3 linked regions of the Homo sapiens genome follow. The protein of the gene in region 1 interacts with the protein of each later gene in a pairwise test. Each region holds a gene or a part of one and is shown on either strand. Other genes may lie near its edges.

What was found. Proteins that work in one complex are often made in the same cells at the same time.
Region 2: the proteins of ISCU (region 1) and MID2 interact in binary tests that used the Homo sapiens proteins (3 or more experiments, as listed by UniProt).
Region 3: the proteins of ISCU (region 1) and SDHB interact in binary tests that used the Homo sapiens proteins (3 or more experiments, as listed by UniProt).

What each region holds. Positions count from the first base shown.
Region 1 is NC_000012.12:108,565,570-108,569,873, reverse strand, and holds the end of ISCU (iron-sulfur cluster assembly enzyme ISCU isoform 2 precursor), read right to left. Parts: intron 2,685-4,304; coding exon 2,606-2,684; intron 2,217-2,605; coding exon of another isoform or gene 2,170-2,216; exon of another isoform or gene 1,955-2,169; coding exon of another isoform or gene 1,902-1,954; exon of another isoform or gene 1,044-1,901; coding exon 958-1,043; 3' UTR 506-957; downstream 1-505.
Region 2 is NC_000023.11:107,919,849-107,926,879, reverse strand, and holds part of MID2 (probable E3 ubiquitin-protein ligase MID2), read right to left. Parts: intron 2,538-7,031; coding exon 2,376-2,537; intron 787-2,375; coding exon 579-786; intron 210-578; coding exon 1-209. UniProt on the Homo sapiens protein: E3 ubiquitin ligase that plays a role in microtubule stabilization. Mediates the 'Lys-48'-linked polyubiquitination of LRRK2 to drive its localization to microtubules and its proteasomal degradation in neurons.
Region 3 is NC_000001.11:17,051,019-17,058,465, forward strand, and holds the start of SDHB (succinate dehydrogenase [ubiquinone] iron-sulfur subunit, mitochondrial isoform 1 precursor), read right to left. Parts: upstream 3,015-7,447; 5' UTR 3,002-3,014; coding exon 2,930-3,001; intron 1-2,929. UniProt on the Homo sapiens protein: Iron-sulfur protein (IP) subunit of the succinate dehydrogenase complex (mitochondrial respiratory chain complex II), responsible for transferring electrons from succinate to ubiquinone (coenzyme Q).

The DNA of each region.
Region 1 (4,304 bases):
AGAATGAACCACTTAAGATACTACATCTATGCAGAACACAGCATTCAGAAGTTTCTTCCCTAAAGTTTGGCTCATCTACGACCACAAAAAACCCAAGAGGTTCTTAAAAGTCAGGGGCTCTGGAATTACCTGCCCAGACAGAAGTCAGAAACTTGGGCCTAGAAATCCGCATTTTAAACTCATTCCCGAGGTGCTCTTCATGTATCTGGTCTACCGCTTTAGGGTGCCAAGCTAATGCTTTTTAGATTTGAGCAACCAGTGAAATTACAGAAAGAATCTTCAAGACTTACTTTGAGCTTTCAACTACTATCACACAAAGAACAATGACAAGCGATAATCATCTCCTTTCATCCTTGTTCCAAAAAATATTACGTATATTTGTCTTTGTTTGCTTGGAGAGCTGTGTATGTCACTGCGGTCCAACCTCTGGGAACCCCAAGGGGCTTTGGGCACCACTTCAGGGTGAATGATGGGCCCAAGAGACAAGGCTTACTAGAGAACACCATCATCTTCCATTATTTTATTATTTTTTATACATATATATATATGCGCAATCTGTTTTATGTACAACAATTGGTTCTATCAAATATTCAGACCAAGGCATTCTACTGGTAATTTCCCCCCAAATCAATTCAGGTAAAATTAGATACTTATGCACTTCACGGGCTATCAAAACTTGCAACTTCATTATCAATTTCAGTTCTGAGGTCATACACACAATTCAAAATATACATTAACTAGGTTAAGGCGATAAAAGTGGGCTGAAAGAAACCACAGGATTCAGAACAATGAAACTGTGTATTTTGCTTGCATGAGAGTCATAACGTGAACAGCAAGTATTGTGCGTATCTCATAGCTCTTCAGTGGAGAGGAAGCGGCTTCTGAACATCTAAGGTGACTGCACAGCAGGTGGGAAACAGCTGGTGTGGCCTGCTGGAGGCTTCGCCGAGGGAGGGCTCATTTCTTCTCTGCCTCTCCTTTTTTGGGTTCTTGTTTCAATTTGTAATCAGCCAGGGCGGCCTTGATTGCATCTTCAGCCAGCACTGGAAGTAACGGAAGGAAAGAAGCCTAAGTTTCTAGATGTGAAAGAAATGGACTTGGGAATAGAATCTTTAAGAGCTGGGAGGAAGTGGTGCTGGTGGGGACTAATGGAGTAACCAAGCCAGAAAGCTGGGGTGAGGAGTTGCTGGGCACGTCAGCAGCTGCTTCCTGAGCTGAGTTACTCCTGCGGGTGATCCTGGAGACAGACTAGGGTTAAAAATCTGTGATCCCAGGCTAGTTCCTTAGCCTCTTTGACCCTACTTTCTCTTCTATAGAACTGGGATAATCATGCTTTTCTTGCCAGGATAGTGTGGGGACTTACAGAAGATGTCTGACACATAGTAGGGACACAGGAAATGTTACTTCTTGCCTGCTCCCATCAAAGTCTAGCTTTGGACAAAATCTTGTCATGATAAAAAAGTTGACATGCCCTTTGGAAAAAAGATCATGTCAATCTGTTGATGGGATGGCATTTGCCACATCACCCTCTAGTGATCGAGAGTTTGACCACTTTTATTTAGGAGTCAATATTCAAAGTGAGGCTATGGGGAAAATAAAAACTGAGAGAGCTGGAATGACAGCAGAAAGCAAGCAAATAACAGAGAACATCAGCTAAAGGTTTCAGTACCTAAAAAGGCCTAATAAAAGGGCTGGGGATTTCCTGAAACCATGTGAAAATGTTTACAAGTGATGACCTTTCTTTATGGGTACTTAAAATTCCAGATCAAGTGGAAAGAACTTAGGTCTGACCAGGCTTCCTGAAGAATGAGTTAGTGTGTCTGCCCCGGCACCTGGCTCTTCTGCTGTGAGTATTACCTTGGCAAGAGGCCTGACTCTCTGCTGATTTTTAACTAATTTGGTTAGTAAACCTCCATCGATGCATTAAGGCTAATGTTTCTCATTCCTTCTTTCCCTGAGAAGGTTAAGAAATGATGGAAAAAGCATTAGATTTAATACAGAGACCAAACTGGAAAGCCAAGTACAAGTCTTAAGGCATCTGGGCTTTTTTTTAGGATAGCAGGGAGGGGGACATTGTACAACTGGGCTTAGTTGTTCCATATATACAGATGCAGACCCCGACAGGAATACCATCCAGACAGGAAGTGAAGAAATACACAGGAAACAGGATTATGGCGAAAGCTGAGTTTTCTCCTCTGCTGGAAACAGCACAGATTCTGAAATCAAAGATTGGAGCTTAAATTCTGGCTCTTCCACTTATTAGCCATGTGATGTGGGCGTCTCAACCCAAGCCTTAGCTTCCTCATCCATAAGAGGGAAGTAATGACATCTACTGTGCACTCAAGGATATTTGTGAGGTTTAGAAATTACGCCCATGAAGTGCTCAGTATGATGGCTGGTGCATACCTCCTTCTGGCATGATTCTCTTAGGGATGAATGTGAGACCATGGGGGCTCTAACCCTCTGCAGGTTATAAGGACAGACTCATGAGCTCTAATTCTGAGGGTTACAAACGTGGGCTCCATGATCTAAAAGGACTGTTGCAAACCAAGTTGAAATTACTGCCAAATGTCCCAGCTGACTGGTATGGAGAGCAGAGACTTACTGGAGCAGTGCAGTTTCACGGGAGGAAGGCAGAGCTCCTTGGCGATATCTGTGTTTTTGATAGTCAAGGCTTCCTCCACCTGAGAGGCATAATGGAAAGATGGGCAGTTTTAGCAACACTTTATCTTGTGAGGGCCAGCCAATAAAAAAGGGAGGCCAAAGAGGCTCTCAGGGTTGGTGGGGATGATTTCTGTTTAATAACTCAAACGGCTAAGGGTCTTCTCAGGACTCCCACTTTATCAAAGCTGCAGCTGGGATTCTCAAGCATGAAGTATACACAGCTGCACTGCCTGGCTTGGGTAAGCAAAGACAGCCCAGACACTTCTCTAAGTCAGGAGTGGAACCTGTGAGAAGTCTCTTAGGGATCTGCTTGTGGCCTGTAACAGGAATCTCTTCCTTAAAAGGTAGTGATTTCCTATGCTGGTTTTGTGAATATCAGCTTCTCCGATGTCCTCATACCAAATGTTAGCCTAAATCCTTTTGACTAGAAGTGCCGAATGGCATCAGAGAGGTTGGGAAGATTTCAGGTAAGTAGCACAGTGGCAGTGGCACAGCCGAGTCAGGCCGAATGCTCTCTTTGGTGTCCCCTTTGCCTATAGGAGCATCTCCTCCAGATCAACTAAAGAGGATGCCTGGGGTCTGGTTGACAGCCCTGGGGGATAATGTGAGGCAGGCAGATCCTTGCCCATGTAGAACAGTGCCCCACTGCCTTACAGAAAACCAGATTTCCCAACAGCCAGACTCTTTGACTATGTCTATCATTCAGTTTCCCAATTCTGCTAACCCTTCTTGGTTGATTCAGGTTCTGCTCCTGAAACTCAGATGGGAGATCTCAAGGTTAAAGAAATGTCCTCTCTCCCATTTTCTGATCACAATTCACAGTCCCCTAAGGGCCAGGTTCTGGGAGCAAAAGTGCCTTGTCTCATTTCTCCCTTCACCTGAGGACAGTTCCTGACAAATCACTTCAGAGCTACCTCCTGCCACAGCAGGTTAGGTCTGAGCTTCCTGGCCCACAGGGGCTTGCCAGCCAGAAGGCCGTGAGCCACAGGAAGCAGGTGGCACGTGGCCTGGCAAACTGCTCTGCTGTGGAGCTGGCCAGCTTCCAAGCATGCTCCTCTGTGACTCAGCTCCCTGAACCTGGTCCCTTGGGGCAGCAAAGATGAGTGCCTTGCTGGTTGGCTTTTCTGAGAGGTTTTGACAGCAACTGGATTTTAGAAAGTCCAGCTCTTCACTGTGTTTGGGACCTTTGACCTCTGCAGCTACCAGGGAAAGACACTTGGGAGACAAAGGGATGAAAAAGAAGTTCTAGCTCTTTATTATCTCTGCCTTTAGAGGGCTTGCGATCAGCCACCTGGATCACTGTTCTGATTTCGTTGTTCACTTTGCCCCCACCCTTGCTGTCTTTTTGATTATTTAATCCCTCTTTTAACACAGGCTAGTTTATTTCACCAATTCTTGAAAGCCACCTAGAACCCTTCCTGAAACATGAGAGGAAATAAACAAGAAAATAACTACCTTATAACAACTCTCTGACTTGAGAAATTATAAGAGCACTGGTAACCTTAGAGAAAGCCAAAGATTTCTTTTAAATTCTATTTTGTTAGAGGGACAGGTGAGGATCTTTTTTATATGTAATTAACACCCAAACAAACAAAAAAATAAAAATGATCAACAAGAAAAAAACCCAAACAACACCTAGT
Region 2 (7,031 bases), on another chromosome or scaffold:
TAGCTGGGTCATAGAAAGACAGCATATTGTTGTCATAATCCAGGAGGACACCCAGACGCTTCAGGTGTGGGGGCACATCCACCAGCATTTCCTTGTTGTTGTGTCTCACCACGAAGTTACTATTGCAGCGAGAGAAGACCCATGAGGAGGCATTCTTGCCAATCCATTCATTCTTTGGAGCTGATTTGTAGGCAATGCCAATTGCATACCTGTGAGACAGTGGAAAGGAGAGAGAAATAAACATTTATGAATTATCTGAGTTGTGTAAGACACCATATATGATATATAACAAATAGGATATATGTTTATTCCTTAAATAGTTTACACTTAGATGCATAATGCTGATATCACTAGAGCTTTAAAAAGTTAGCAATTAGAGCAATGTGGCAGTTTCCATCTCCTAGCCCAGTATATTTTCCATTATTTTATTAAAAAGCTGGCAAATTTTTCTAGGAGTGGTTTTCATCACATACCTTTTAACCTTGACTTATTGGTATTATGGTTGTGCTATAGAATTGAATCTCCTAGGAACCTAATGACAGAGGACAGAAAAGAAAAGGAAAATGGGATCCACTCACCATGTTGAGGAACCCATGACCACCTCCCAATAGTGGCAGCCACTGTCAATGAATATATTTCCTGCTGCCCCATAGCACCCTGTGCCACTAAACCTCTCTGGGGTGTGGCTCTTCTTTAGAGAGCTTTCATCCTTCTCCATCTGCAATCCATCATTGGAGATCTTCAACTTCTTGTGAGTCATTTTGGGATCCAATTTAAAGGGTTGGCCTGAAAAATAAGTAGAAAAAAAAAAAAGAAAAAGCACTATGAAGTATCTTAAAATTCTACCTTTTCCACCAGCATCATCACTGGCAGGGTATGCTCGATAACATGATCACTCTTGGTCCAGTGCAAGTTGGCTGCTGTTTAAATTTTATTAAGAAAACAGGCCAGAAACCAGAGTTTTCAATAAAATAAGAATAAAGGCCAATCTCCCATAAAACGACCTTCATAACGGCGTTTATTTTCCCACTGTGGGAAAAAATGTGGATCTCTCCTAAAAGCAATTTGAGGGAAGTCATATTCCAAGCAAAGAGGAGCTAATAAGCTGTCCCCCACATCATATATTATCAAAGTAAAAGGGAGTGCTCAAAGTTTCATGTTCTCAAATATGTTTTGTACTTTGCTTAATTTCAGTGGGTTGTTTGGGATTTGGGTAGATTTTAACAGAAAGAGTGTTATGATGTCTGAGGTGAGGGGAATTGATGTAATTGCTGCTTGATGGCAGAACCGGAAAACCCTGAGAACTCAGCAACTGAACAATTATTTTTGCCCTCTTACAATTGGGATGTAAATAACATATAATTAGGCAATTTTGTTAGAGTGACTGTTGCATCATCAATGATCAGAGAAAACATTTATTGTGTAGGATCATTCACAACAGATAATTCTTTATAACCATATGACAAAGGCATTGTTACTGAGGGACCAGTTGCTGGGTGTGGCAAGAGATTTTTATACAGAATGCTTCTGTGACAGACACTGTTGGCTAACACATTACCCTTTCCCAACTTTTTCTCTCTTACTCACTTTCACTATAGAGGCCGGAAAAGCTAAATACTCAATCTTCCAGCCTCCCTTACTGCTAGGGGCGGCTAAGAACATGGAAGCAGATGGAAGCAGAAGTCAGACAGAGCAGGGGAAAGTTCTAGGAAAGTTTTGGATTTCCAGATAAAAGGGATAACCATTATGTGTACCAACTCTTTCCTCTTTCCTATCTTGAGAGGTAATATGACATCTGAAAGTTGCAGTGGCCATCTTGCAGCCATGTGGCAAGAAGCCAATGCACACAGGGAGAAGGAGCCTGCATCTTTTATGACATCGCAGAGCAGCTGCATTAGCCCTGAACTGCCTACCTTCAAACTTCTTCCTATGTGTATGTGTGAGAGATAAAATATATACTATTCATTTAAACAATTAACAAACGCTATTTGTTAAGCTATGTTAGTTGCACTTTTTGTTATTTGCTGTCAAAAGCATTCCTAACAGATATGGCTTCTCTGTAGTAAGATTTTACTAGATTATCACAAATAATGCTCTTTTATGCAATTGTCCCCCAAATATAAGGGGTGGAGTACAGAGAAAACTCTTCACTAACATCCTCCCAAGCTAACAGTCTTTTTGTGCATATCTCTGAGTCCACAAATCTCCCATGGGCACCAACAAACTCCTTGCCCAAAGTACAAACTACAACAGTATAGCTCCTCTACCCAGTACCACTGCTCCCCATGCACTGCTGTGAGTGCCTGCTCAGGCTGTGTACTCCCCTGGCATGGAGAAGAAAATTGATCTTTCCTTTTGAAATCACCACAACGTACTGTTTGTTTTTAGTCGGGTAGGTTCACTGTTCCGGCTGCCGGCTTGGTTTATGGCTTTAACGATGAAGATGTAGCGAGTCCCGCTCTGGAGTCCATGCACTGTGTAATGGTTCTGTTTAATGTTGGGAACAATCATCCAGCTGTCTACTGAATTATACAGGCCTGTAACATGGGGAAAGACAAGGACATTAACCAGCAGGTAAGAGAGACAGAATGAAAAACACACTGAAAATTCATCATAAGCCACCCCCTCAAAAGTGAATTCATTTTGTTTTCTTTTGAGTCTTAGAAGATGTAATGAGATGAACCAGGGCTTATGATTCCACTATTTCATTACTCCCATAGAACTAGGCTTAGGCCAGGCTCCTTGCTTGTGGCAATTGAATGGAACTACTAGCATAAGTTAGGTTATTTCAATTTCTTTCCCAGATAACACAGGAATGGCTACTATACAGAGTCACGGAATCATCACTCTTATGGAGTCTCTGGATATTTACTCCAAACGTCCACTCCTCTGAGAGCTGAGTTTGGTCTTGTATGGATGGAGCAATCCTGTGCAGAGCAGGGAAACATGGAAACTCAGCCAAAGGGACACATAGATACTGTATTTCCCTTATTTTACAAATGGGAAACTAGGATTGAGAGAAGAAAAGTGACCTGCCCAAGGCCACAGATAGTCAGTGATGGTGCTGAGAATAGAACCCTGGTATTTTTAAAATGGTAGCCCAGTGTTCTCTCTACTACATCACAGTTCATGGGGTGAACAACAATGTTCTTTTGTCTCTGCAAGGTAGTGAGGCTCTCAGGGCTTACAATTCCACTCTCCTACTCCATCCTTACCCTTACTTCCCAAACTAGCCGGTCTCCACAGTACCGTAGGGAAGCCAAAGAGATGACATGATAACCAAAGCAAGATATCATCTCCCCACTATTACACAACACATTCTGTTGTGTGATTCCCATGTTCATTTTGGGTTGAGTGGTCCAGGAGCACATTGTTATCTGGAATCTTCCTCCCTTCCAAGTAGGGAAAGGGATCAGAGAACTAGGCTTCTGCTTTTGATATATTTTAGACTGCAAATATTAACTTAAACAGGGGAAATGTAAATAATTAAAACATGTATTTGGCAAGCTTTCGGTAAAAGAAAAACCAACATTCTAGTCTGCAGATTATTTAGACTTCTTTCTACTGTTATCTGCTTTTCAGTTAGTTTACCACTTTTTAGCCACAGTTCTACTAGAGGGTAGAAAGGGAAAGGCGAGGAATATAAGCAGTGAATTCAGTCATTTCTATGCAACTCTAGTACAAAATTTAGTGAGGTTGAAAATTGAAAATAATAAGTCATGAATGTTTTGCAAGAGATCTGATCAAAGGGCTTATAATTAATCTGAGAGGAAGTTGAAGAGCCTAAGTTAAAACTAGTAAAAGAAACGATGGAGGGCAAACAGATATGCAGGAGAAAGAGGAGGAAGAATTGGTGGAGGTGCCCAGTGATTCTAATGAAAAGACAATATGGATTAAAAGGGTAGGAGCAATGTTTGAGGCCTTGCCTATGTTACCAATACACAGTATGAATCACAAGCTGCACATAAGATTTTAATACAAAGAGGAAAACATATAATCTCCAGATACACACCCAACAATACAAAGACAAACTTCACAATGAAGTACTATGCAGCTGTGAAAAAAATGAGGAAAAGATCACTATGAACTGATATAGAGTGATTTCAAGGAAATATTGTCAATTGAAAAAAGCAAATTCCAAAAGTATATATGTATATGTAGTATATATGCAGTACACTACTTTTTTGAGAGAAAGAAAAATAAGAAAACATCCATATATTTGCTTGGATTTACAAAGCAACAACAATAAAAACAGGAAAGATAAATAAAAAATTCATGAAGTTGGTTATCCACAAGGGGTAGGGGGTGGAGGAACAGGATTAAAAGGATGTGGGAGGAAATGACATTTCTCTGAATGTACCTTTTTGTATAGCATCCTCTTTGGGAAACACATTGTTTTACAAATTCAAAAAAATAAAATTAAATGAATACAGATGGGAAAATTGGGGACTAAAGCTGAAGGCAAACTGAAACAAACCCAACTGCATTTCAGACGAACAGCATAATTACATCAATGTAGTGGGGGTGGGAGGAAAACCTCAAACAAATCCTGAAGTATTGTTAGCCAGTTTGTTTTTGTTGTGGCGTGGACAGAGCAATTCAGAAACTATTTTAGATGTATTATGGGATTGAGCAAATGAGTACATGTGTTGATGTTGGGAGCCAGGGTTCATACTGTGGAAGAAGGAACATACAAATACAGAATGGAGAAAGGCAGGAAGGAACCTGTGGGGATGGACTGGAATTTAAGGTATTGGTGTAAACTCATGATTTCTAAAATATATATATGTTTGTGTATGTGCACATAAATATGCACATATATAAAGTATGTATGCATGTGTTATTATATATGTGTGCATATGCTTACATGTATGGATATTTGTGTTTATATCTAGCATATCTAGCACTCAGGTCTTGGTCTCTAATATTGTCCCACTAAAAGAAACCAGGGTTTCTTGGAAAATAATGACTGATTTCAAGGCTGGGACAGAATAAGGTCAAAATGAGCCTAGAACATTTTGTTATGCCAGAAAGTAAGGAAGTGCTCAAGAAAATGATGGGGGAATATTATAAGGACCCAGAAATCACCTTGAAAGGCTCCCAATGGCTAAATCTTGACAATTTGAACACCAACACAAGTAAGGGCTGTAAATAATTATTAACAATTGAAAAAAGATAATTCATCAGCCCATACTGATATATAAACAAATGGGAGGAAATGGGGAGTGGAACTCTTGCTTATAGTAGAATGCCAAGTGCCAACTTGAAAATGTGGGAGGGAATACTCAACTGGAAAAATCATCATTTTGCAATCATCATATTAATGATTGATTCAGGCAAGTATCATCAACTGATAATAAAACAAGGGTGGGGGTAGGGATGAGATGGTTTGATGAAGCAGCAGGGTATTTTTATGGTTTTAAAACATACCACACAGATTCCTTATTAGTGGCAAAAGAAAAAGTAGCAACTACAGTGAATAAATCAGACGACATCTTGACTAGGTGATCAAAATTAGCATCATCAGTGAAGGGCAAGTGGACATCATGTGTCTCCAGATATTATACCCTAAGAAAGAACTGTACTGCTAAATATAATCATGAGAAAACTTCAGAAAAAATCAAAATAAGGAACAGTATAATGAAGTATAATAAAGACATAAAAGAACACTTTTTAAAAAATGTCAATGTTGTTCAAGACAAAGAAAGGCTGAAGAAATGTTCCAGATTAAAAGAGATATGGCAAAAGAGATACGACAATTAAATGTAATACCTGACCCTAAACTATAAAGGACAATATTGGGTTCTTTATATGTCATAAAGAATATTATTTGGTCAAATGTCAAAAATTGAAATATAAATGGTGGTTAGATAAAAGTATTGCATCAACGTTAAATTTCTTCAAGTTGGTAACTATACTGTGGTTATGTAAGAGAATTTCCTTATTCTTAGGAAATATACACTGAAGAATTCAGAGGTGAAAGACCATGATGTATGCAATTTGCTCTAAAATGGTTCCAAAAGAACAGGGAATGTTAGCAAATGCTAAAGGAAATGGGACAAATATTAACAGTAGGTGAATTTGGGTAAAGAATATATGGGTGTTCTTTGTGCTAGTCTTGGAAAGTTTTCTGTGATTTTGAAATCATTTCTAAATTTAAAAAGGTAAATATATGATCCTCTAGGTATTACTGAGATTTAGTAAGATGGGACTTATGATTGAATTATGTCAGTGGAAGTATACCTCTTGTTCAAAAGGGAAAAATTACAATATGGAAATCCCTGAACCTGAGTGTAAATGTGTGGTAGAGAGTATTTGCATGAGAATGAAAAGGAAGGGAAATAGAAGTTATGTCTTTCTGGTAGTATGTTATGGTCCGCCTGGCTAGGCAGAGTTTACGGCTAATGCTTTTGTAATGCAAAACACAAAATTCAAACGGAGGAAAGATAATAAAGTAATCAGAAGACAAACACACTCAAATATCTGTTGGAATTCTCATTCACCTCACAGCATAATCTGAAACATCATTGGTTGTGATCATTTCAAATCTTAGAAGAGGTGGGAAGAAAGTTAAAAATCAGGAAATAAAGTTGAAAGAAAAGGTGAAGGGGGAATAATCCTCACCAACAAGCATGAAATTTCTGGATAAAGAAAATGTGAAAAAACGTCAAAGGAAAGTAGCTCTCAGAACGGAGGTTCAGTCAACTGTGGCAGGCCAGACCGGCAGGTAGGATTGGGATCCTGAATCTTCAAAAATACTTATTCCTAGTAAAATAGTTTCTCATTGCCATCCAAAATTTTGCTTCAGGCCTCTGCCCTTGTCCTTGTTCTAACAAAATTTTCTATCAATAACTAGAGGAAGAAATAGAAGGCAGGCTGTGAGGGTAAGCAAGTATATTTGAAGGTAGAATCTGTATCCCAAAGGATTTTAGCATGCTGAAATGAAGTGGCAGAACTAACCAGATAAAATGTACTAGGGATAAATTCAAGGCTTTGTATTTTTGTTTTAGACATTCAATTGTATAAGAACA
Region 3 (7,447 bases), on another chromosome or scaffold:
TCAAAAATCCAACCTTTTAGCCATTATAACCAGTGGTGAAAACGCAAACATAAAACGCAACAGTGCAAAAAGATAATTCCATTTCACAATGAGATCCAAGGAACAAAAGAAGTTGTTGCTCTAATCATACAATGAGACTATATGATTTTTTTCCCCTTGTTACCTGCCCAGCAATTTATACTACAAATCCAAAAGGAAAGAGGGCCCCTTGAAAGCATTTTTACGTTAATCTAAAGACTAATGAGTATTCAAGGCAGAAAGTACATTCCTAGGAAATCTTGGATAGTATGAATTTCATAGTTTATAATTTAAGCAAGGTAAGCAACAACTGAACTGAGAAGGGTGAATTCTGAATGGTGCTGAAGGCTGGTTGTTGTTCCTCCAGTAAAGTGTCCTTAGGGTGCAGGCTTGGAGTTGGATGGAGTGGATAAAGATTTGGAGGCCAGAGAAGAAGGTGGGGAAATAGAGAGGAAGAAAGCAAAAAGGACTGTATGAAGATAAGCCTGAGTAAAATACAAGGTGCAGGCTTGCTGAAAAGTGTGATTGGTGATGCTTGAAATCCAAGCTCTATCACTTACAAGCTGTGTATTCTTCTGCAAATTATTAGCTTTTCGGATTCTATTTCTTCCTTTGTAAAGGGTGGGTAGTATTAATATCTGCCTCATAAGATAACCCGGGGGAGGGGGGGTCAAGTTTCTAGCATAGCCCAGAAAAAAATTTTTGCTCTACAAGATTGGCAACCTTATCAGTCTTTGTATTATTCTGATTTGTAAATAGGTATCCTAGCCCTGCCAGCCTAAGGAACAAGATGCACATTTTTTAAATTTTTTTTTTTTTTTTGAGACTGAGTTTCGCTCTTGTCGCCCAGGATGGAGTGCAATGGTGCGATTTCAGCTCACTGCACCCTCCACCTCCCAGGTTCAAGCAATTCTCCTGCCTCAGCCTCCTGTGTAGCTAGGATTATAGGCGCCCACCACCACGCCCAGCTAATTTTTTTTTTATTTTTTTAGTAGAGACGGGGTTTCACCATGTTGGCCGGGCTGGTCTTGAACTCCTGACCTCAGGTGATCCACCCACCTTGGCCTCCCAAAGTGCTGGAATTACAGGCATGAGCCACTGCACCTGGCAAGATACACACTTTTAAGTAGGTAGTTCTTGTCCTAAAGGAGTTCATAGTCCAGATGAAGAAATAAGGCAACACAAACAATAGTTAATATACTACAGTCAAATACTTACAGGCAGAATTGTGGTTCAGTGGTCAGACTATAAGCATAAAAAGAATTCAGAACCTGAACCTGAATGTTACCCACAGGTAACACACCAAGCTCATTACTGAATTCTTTTGAGGTGGCTTTTGTGGGTATACATGTACATTCCCACAAGGAAGGGGAGGCCTTGGGGCTCTTCTATTTTCTGTTGCCCTCAGGAGGCCCTGCAAAGACCTTGCCTGGAATTACAAAAATGACCTATGAAATTAGCCTTTTCTACAATGCATTCTTAGAAGAGGGGCTTGGAACTCTCTCGTTAGTGGGGCTCTCACAATTTAATTGTTTGCTCAGCAACTATAAAAGGAACAGGTAAACAAGCTCATTATCAATCATCAATTTAATACTGAGAGGATGTCAGCTTGAGGCTCTGGTAGGCTGTCTTCTTCCTCTATCTCCCCTTTTCAGAAAGGCTGATGCAGACAGAGTGGATCCAAGTTCACACACAGCATGCTGGATAGAACCAGGATTGGAACATGGGCAATATGTACTGTGTTATGCAGCCATAGCAGGCACTTAAGATGAAAGATGTCCTCATTTAAGTGCAAGAGAGGAAGAGGAACTAAAATTTCTTGGACACCAACCATGTCCCAAGATCTATGCTAAGGAGTTTTTCTGGTACCATGTTAAAAAACTGCCTCAGGTCTGCTTCTTGGGAATGTGATATTTTGAGCAAGCCAAAAATTTTCTTTCTGGGGGCCTCAAGTTTTCAAAGCTCCAAAAAGGAGGGTAAGGATTCTTGCTTGCCCACCTTAAAGGGGTTGTTGAGAATCCCAGAAGAGGAACAGACTTAGAAAGGATTTGCAAATCCTTAGTCCCTTATGTATACAAAAGCAATTTCCCTTCCCCTTCTAAATGTTCCCACTTAGAAGGCAGGTCAGAAATGTGTTGTTTCTTGGCCATACAAGGGGCGTGGGAAAATCTGTTACTGCACACGGCATAGTAATAAACAAGAACAGCGCCAAGCCCTCTACCTGTCATTCCATGTCAACTCTATGAGGTCCGTATTATTATATGACCTTTAGAGTCAGAAACACTGAGAGGATACTAGTGAAACTGTGGTGACACTGCTTTAAGGAACCCAGTCTTTCCTGCAACCCCCACCACCCACCTCCGGGATCCTTCGAGGTAGGGGGCTGGGTGCATTTCCCTCCATCTCTCCCTTCCCCTGCCCTGTCCCCAACAATTCACATGTCCTTTCCTCACCCATCCCGGTCCTCAACCTCGCACCCTTGAGGAATTACCTCGCTTCCCAATTCCCATCCTTCACACCCCGCAGGTCTCCCTTTTCTACAGAGGCGATAGTTTGGTGGCAGAAAAAGGGCTTGGAACTCCAATGTCTGGATTCAAATTCTGGTTCCAGCAGTCATTCGCTTGCCATGTGACCTTGAGCAATTCAAGTCCCCTTTCTGAACGTCCCCCCCCCCCGCACCCTTAGCTGTAAAAAATTGCCCGTGCCCTAACTCACAAGCTGCTGCGAGGCGCAGAAAGATAACTTGACAGGGATGCTCGAAGCCAAACCAAAGCACTGCACCAGGGGGAGGAGGTCCTCCATCTCCCTGAGGCCTTGCCCTATGCTTCCTCAGTCTCTCCGCAGCCCCATCAGCTCCAGGCAGTCTCTGTGGCTTTCCTGACTTTTCCCTCTCTGAGGCTCCAGGACTCACCTGCAGGCAGGCTCCGCCAAGGGTTGTGGCCGGCAACCGGCGCCTCAAGGAGAGGGCGACCACCGCCGCCATCTTGGCTCCTGACGTCAGCCCCACCCCTTAACCCCGAGGTCGCTCTCCGCCGGTGTCCCGTCGAACATCGCGGCGCCCAGCCTACATCCACTGAGGACCCACTAGCCGCGTACGAGCAACCAAGTGGGAGGCGGCTTCCGGTTTCCCGGGTGGGCGGAGGGAAGGCGGGGCAAGCACAGCGAGCGTGCGCAATAGCGCAGTAGCGGCGCATGCCCATTTGGCTTCCCCCGTGACCTTCTCAGAAAGGGGAGGAGTCTGAGAGGCAGGGCGACTTTCAGGGGGTGGGGCTAAGACTTAGATGGGGCGGAGCCATCCTATCCGGGTCCCTGCCCCGATTTCAACCTCTTTATTCCTGGAATTTTTGTTTGTTTGTTTGAGATGGAGTCTCGCACTGTTTCCCGGGCTGGAGTGCAATGGCGCGATCTTGGCTCACTGCAACCTCCGCCTCCCGGGTTCACGCGATTCTCCTGCCTCAGCCTCCCGAGTAGCTGGGATTACAGGCGCACACCATCACACCCGGCTAATTTTTTGTATTTTTAGTAGAGACGGGGTTTCATCATCTTGGCCAGACTGGTCTTGAACTCCTGACCTCGTGATCCGCCCACCTTGGCCTCCCAAAGTGCTGGAATTACAGGCATGAGCCACTGCGCCCGGCCAATTTTTTTTTTTTTTTTCAGACAGGGTCTCACTCTGTTGCCCAGGCCGGTGTGCAGTCTTGGCTCACTGCAGCCTCGACTTCCCAGGCTCAAGCGATCCTCCCACCTCCAGAGTAGCTGGGACTACAGGCGTGTGAGCCACCATACCCGGGTAGTTTTTTTTTTTTTCTTTTTTTTGAGATGGAGTATCGCTCTGTCTCCCAGGCTGGAGTGCAGTGGCGCGATCTCGGCTGACTGCAACCTCCGCCTCCCGGGTTCAAGCAATTCCCTGCCTCAGCCTCCCGAGTAGCTGGGATTATAGGCGTCCGCCATCATGCCCGGCTAATTTTTTTGTGTTTTTAGTAGAGATGGGGTTTCACCATCTTGGCCAGGCTGGTCTTGAACTCCTGACCTCGTGAGCCACCCACCTCGGCCTCCCAAAGTACTGGAATTACAGGCATGAGCCACCGCGCCCGGCCACCCGGATAATTTTTTTAAAAAATTATTTGTAGAGATGGAGTCTGGCTATGTTGCCCAGGCTGGGCTCAAGCAATCATCCTGCTCCAACTTCCCAAAGTGCTGGGATTACAGGCGTGAGCCACCACACCTAGCCTCCCTAAGAATTTGTCAGTCTTATTATTCATCTCTGACGCTTACTGGCTTGAGTCAGCCCTTTCTGTCGCATACCGTGCAGCTTGCCCGAGGCTGCCCAGGTTTCTGCACTGAGAGTCCCAAACAAACTGGGCAGTTGGTGAATGAGCTGAGGTGATTTCAAGGGTGGCTGGCAAAGGTGCCATTCTTTTGTTCGTTCATTCATTCATTCATAAATACGAATGGAGTGGCTACTATGTGGCAGGCACCAAGTGCTGGGATGCTGCAGGGAATGAGCAAGCCAGGTGGTCACTGCTCATTGAATTTACTCTCTAGTGGTGGAGACGGCAAGTGAGCAGACAGCTAGACACTGTGAGCTCTGTTCTGTACGAGAGGGTGTGCCCAGAGAAGGACACCCAGTCCTTGGTGGCTTTGTTAGCCATTTAATATAAGAAACCATTTCTACTCTGTGCCAAACATTATGGTCCATTATCCCACTTAATCCCCACAGCAGTTCTGTGAAGAAAGTTTTTTGGTTTTGTTTTTTACTGAGTTTCCATTTTAGACATCTCAGCTTCTTTTTCCAGCCCCCTCCATGGATCTGCTCAGAGCTGGCCTCACTCTTGGGACTTACCTTGGGCAGGAGTGGCCTGGAGCCTCCAAGGCACCTGCCTCTTCAGTCACTCCACGCGTTTGTGTAGATTGTTAACCTTGCAGGTCCCGGGGTTTCGTAGGAGTGATTTTTTTTTCCCCTTTCTGTCTGCTTGTTTTGGACATGTGAAGGGCGCCTTTCTATAGTCTTTGGTTTCCACTCTCACAGCTGATGTGGATGCTACTGGAGACATTGAGATGGCCAGGTCAATTGGCTGGATGGGCTGTTTCTGGAGTCCTTGACTGGAACCCCGCTATACCGCCAGTGTGGCCTCATTAAAGGGGGTGTGTAGTGAGGCCTGAACCTCTAGGTCTAACCTGGAATATTCTCTTCAAGGCCATGTGACCTTGGATAAGCCCCTCCCCATCTTTGACCTATAGTTTCCTTGCCTGAACCATTAGGGTGTTGGGCCCTCTGATTTAAGATTCTGTGATTCACGTGGCTGTCTTGTGGATAACTGGTAACAATGCTGAGGTCACCTTGACTTTCACTGGTGCTGACCCAGGACTGGAACAGGGCCCCTCTGGTCTGCCCCATGGGGCCTCTTGGGTCACCCAAACTGGCTGAGATATGGGAAGACTGCCGCTCTGTCTCTAACTCCTAACTGAATTGTCGTCTGAGCTGAAGAAAGCTCTTCCTGAAAGGAATGTATTTCTAGAGAATTGGTCCTCTTAGCATTTTCAGGGTTCTTTCATCTCAAAGGCAGATGCCACCCCTAGATAAGCAACTACCCTTTCAGTTTGCCCAGGTCACCTTGGAAAAAGCAGTCTGAGGCCAGCATAAGTGAGACCTTGATTTATGGAGGGGCTGTTGGTGCCAATGGGCCCACATGCCCTGCAGTCACATCATTCCTGGGCTTCGTGGGGATTTGGGGAGCTCAAAGTTATGGAGGAATAAATTCCTGGGCGGCTGTACCTCCGCCCTGGACTTTGGGATGCCAGAAAGTCACAGCTGCAGAAGGACTTAGAAATTTTCATGGCCTGATCCTGACATATTTTCCAAAGATGTCCTCATGATAAGACCCTAGGTTTTTTTGGTTTATTTCCATTCGTCTAGAGAGTGACATATTGCTTTTCACCAGACAGTCTGCTAGACACTATGTTTATACTGAACTTTATCACTTGCAAAGGTGTTTACATAAACAGTCTCATTTAGTCCTCATAACCACACTTTTGGGTTGGAAAAGCTGCTCCTGTTTTCCAGACTCTCTCAGTCTTTGGACAGCAGGAAAACTGAGCAGCCTTAGGTGAGCGTTTTGCTTTAGGAGGTCTTTCTCCCCTAAGAGCTGGAAATCATGTCCAGAATTGAAAATTAAAACCAGCTGGGCAAAGTGGCTCATACCTGTAATCCCAGAACTTTGGGAGGCTGAAGTGGGAGGATCGATCCCTTGAGCCCAGGAGTTCGAGACCAGCCTGGGCAACATGGTGAGACCCTGTCTCTACAAAAAAATTTAAAATCCGCCAAGCATGGTGGTGCAAACCTGTAGTACCAGCTACTTGGGAGGCTGAAGTGGGAGGATTGCTTGAGTGCAGGAGGTCGAGGCTGCAGTGAGCTGTGATCACACCACTGCAACTCCAGCCTGGGCAACAGAGCAAGAACCTGTCTCAAAAAAATGAAAATAACAAAATAAAAAAGCATTATGTTGTATCAACTGTCATTTGTACAATCAATTGTAGTCTGGTGTCTTGTAATTTAGGGCAACCTGGATGATTTCTGCCAGCCAGAGGGTGAAGGAGGGTTGGATTTAGGAGGAAATATCAGATGTTGCCTGGGAGATTCATTTGCCTCTGGGAAAAACCCACAGCAACAGATTGCTGTGGTGGAGCTCTGGGGCCTTCTCATCTAAAATTTAGGATTTTTTTTTTCTTTTGAGATGGAGCCTCACTCTGTTGCCCAGTCTGGAGAGCAGTGGCACGATCTCGGCTCACTGCAAGCTCTTCCTCCCGGGTTCACGCCATTCTCCTGCCTCAGCCTCCCGAGTAGCTGGGACTACAGGCACCTGTCACCACGCACGGCTAATTTTTTGTATTTTGTTTAGTAGAGATGGGGTTTCACTGTATTAGCCAGGACAGTCTCGATCTCCTGACCTCGTGATCCACCCGCCTCGGACTCCCAAAGTGCTGAGATTACAGGCATGAGCCACTGCGCCCAGCCAAAATTTAGGATTTTATTTGCCTTTGGCCAGTGGGCTTCGTCCTTTCCGTCTCCCTGGCTGTCTCCTGAGCATCTCCATCTGGGCGTCCCAATGGTCCTTTAAACCCAACCTATCCCAAACGGTACATCTCACCTGAGGAGTTTATACTTGTCTTATTAGCACCACCATCTACCGGATATCCAAGCCAGAAACTCGATGTCATCTTGATTCTTCTCCCCACCCCATATCCAATCAACCATCAACTCCCACCATAGCTCCAAGGCTCCCCGGCTCCCCCGCGGGCCCTTCCAGTTACTTCTGTCCCTGTAATACAGCCTGCTCTATTCCCCGCCTCATTTCACACCTCCAAGCCTTTGCGTACGTCCGTGTCTTGGATCTGGAGTGTCCTTTCCTCCTCCTTCATGTGGTTGACT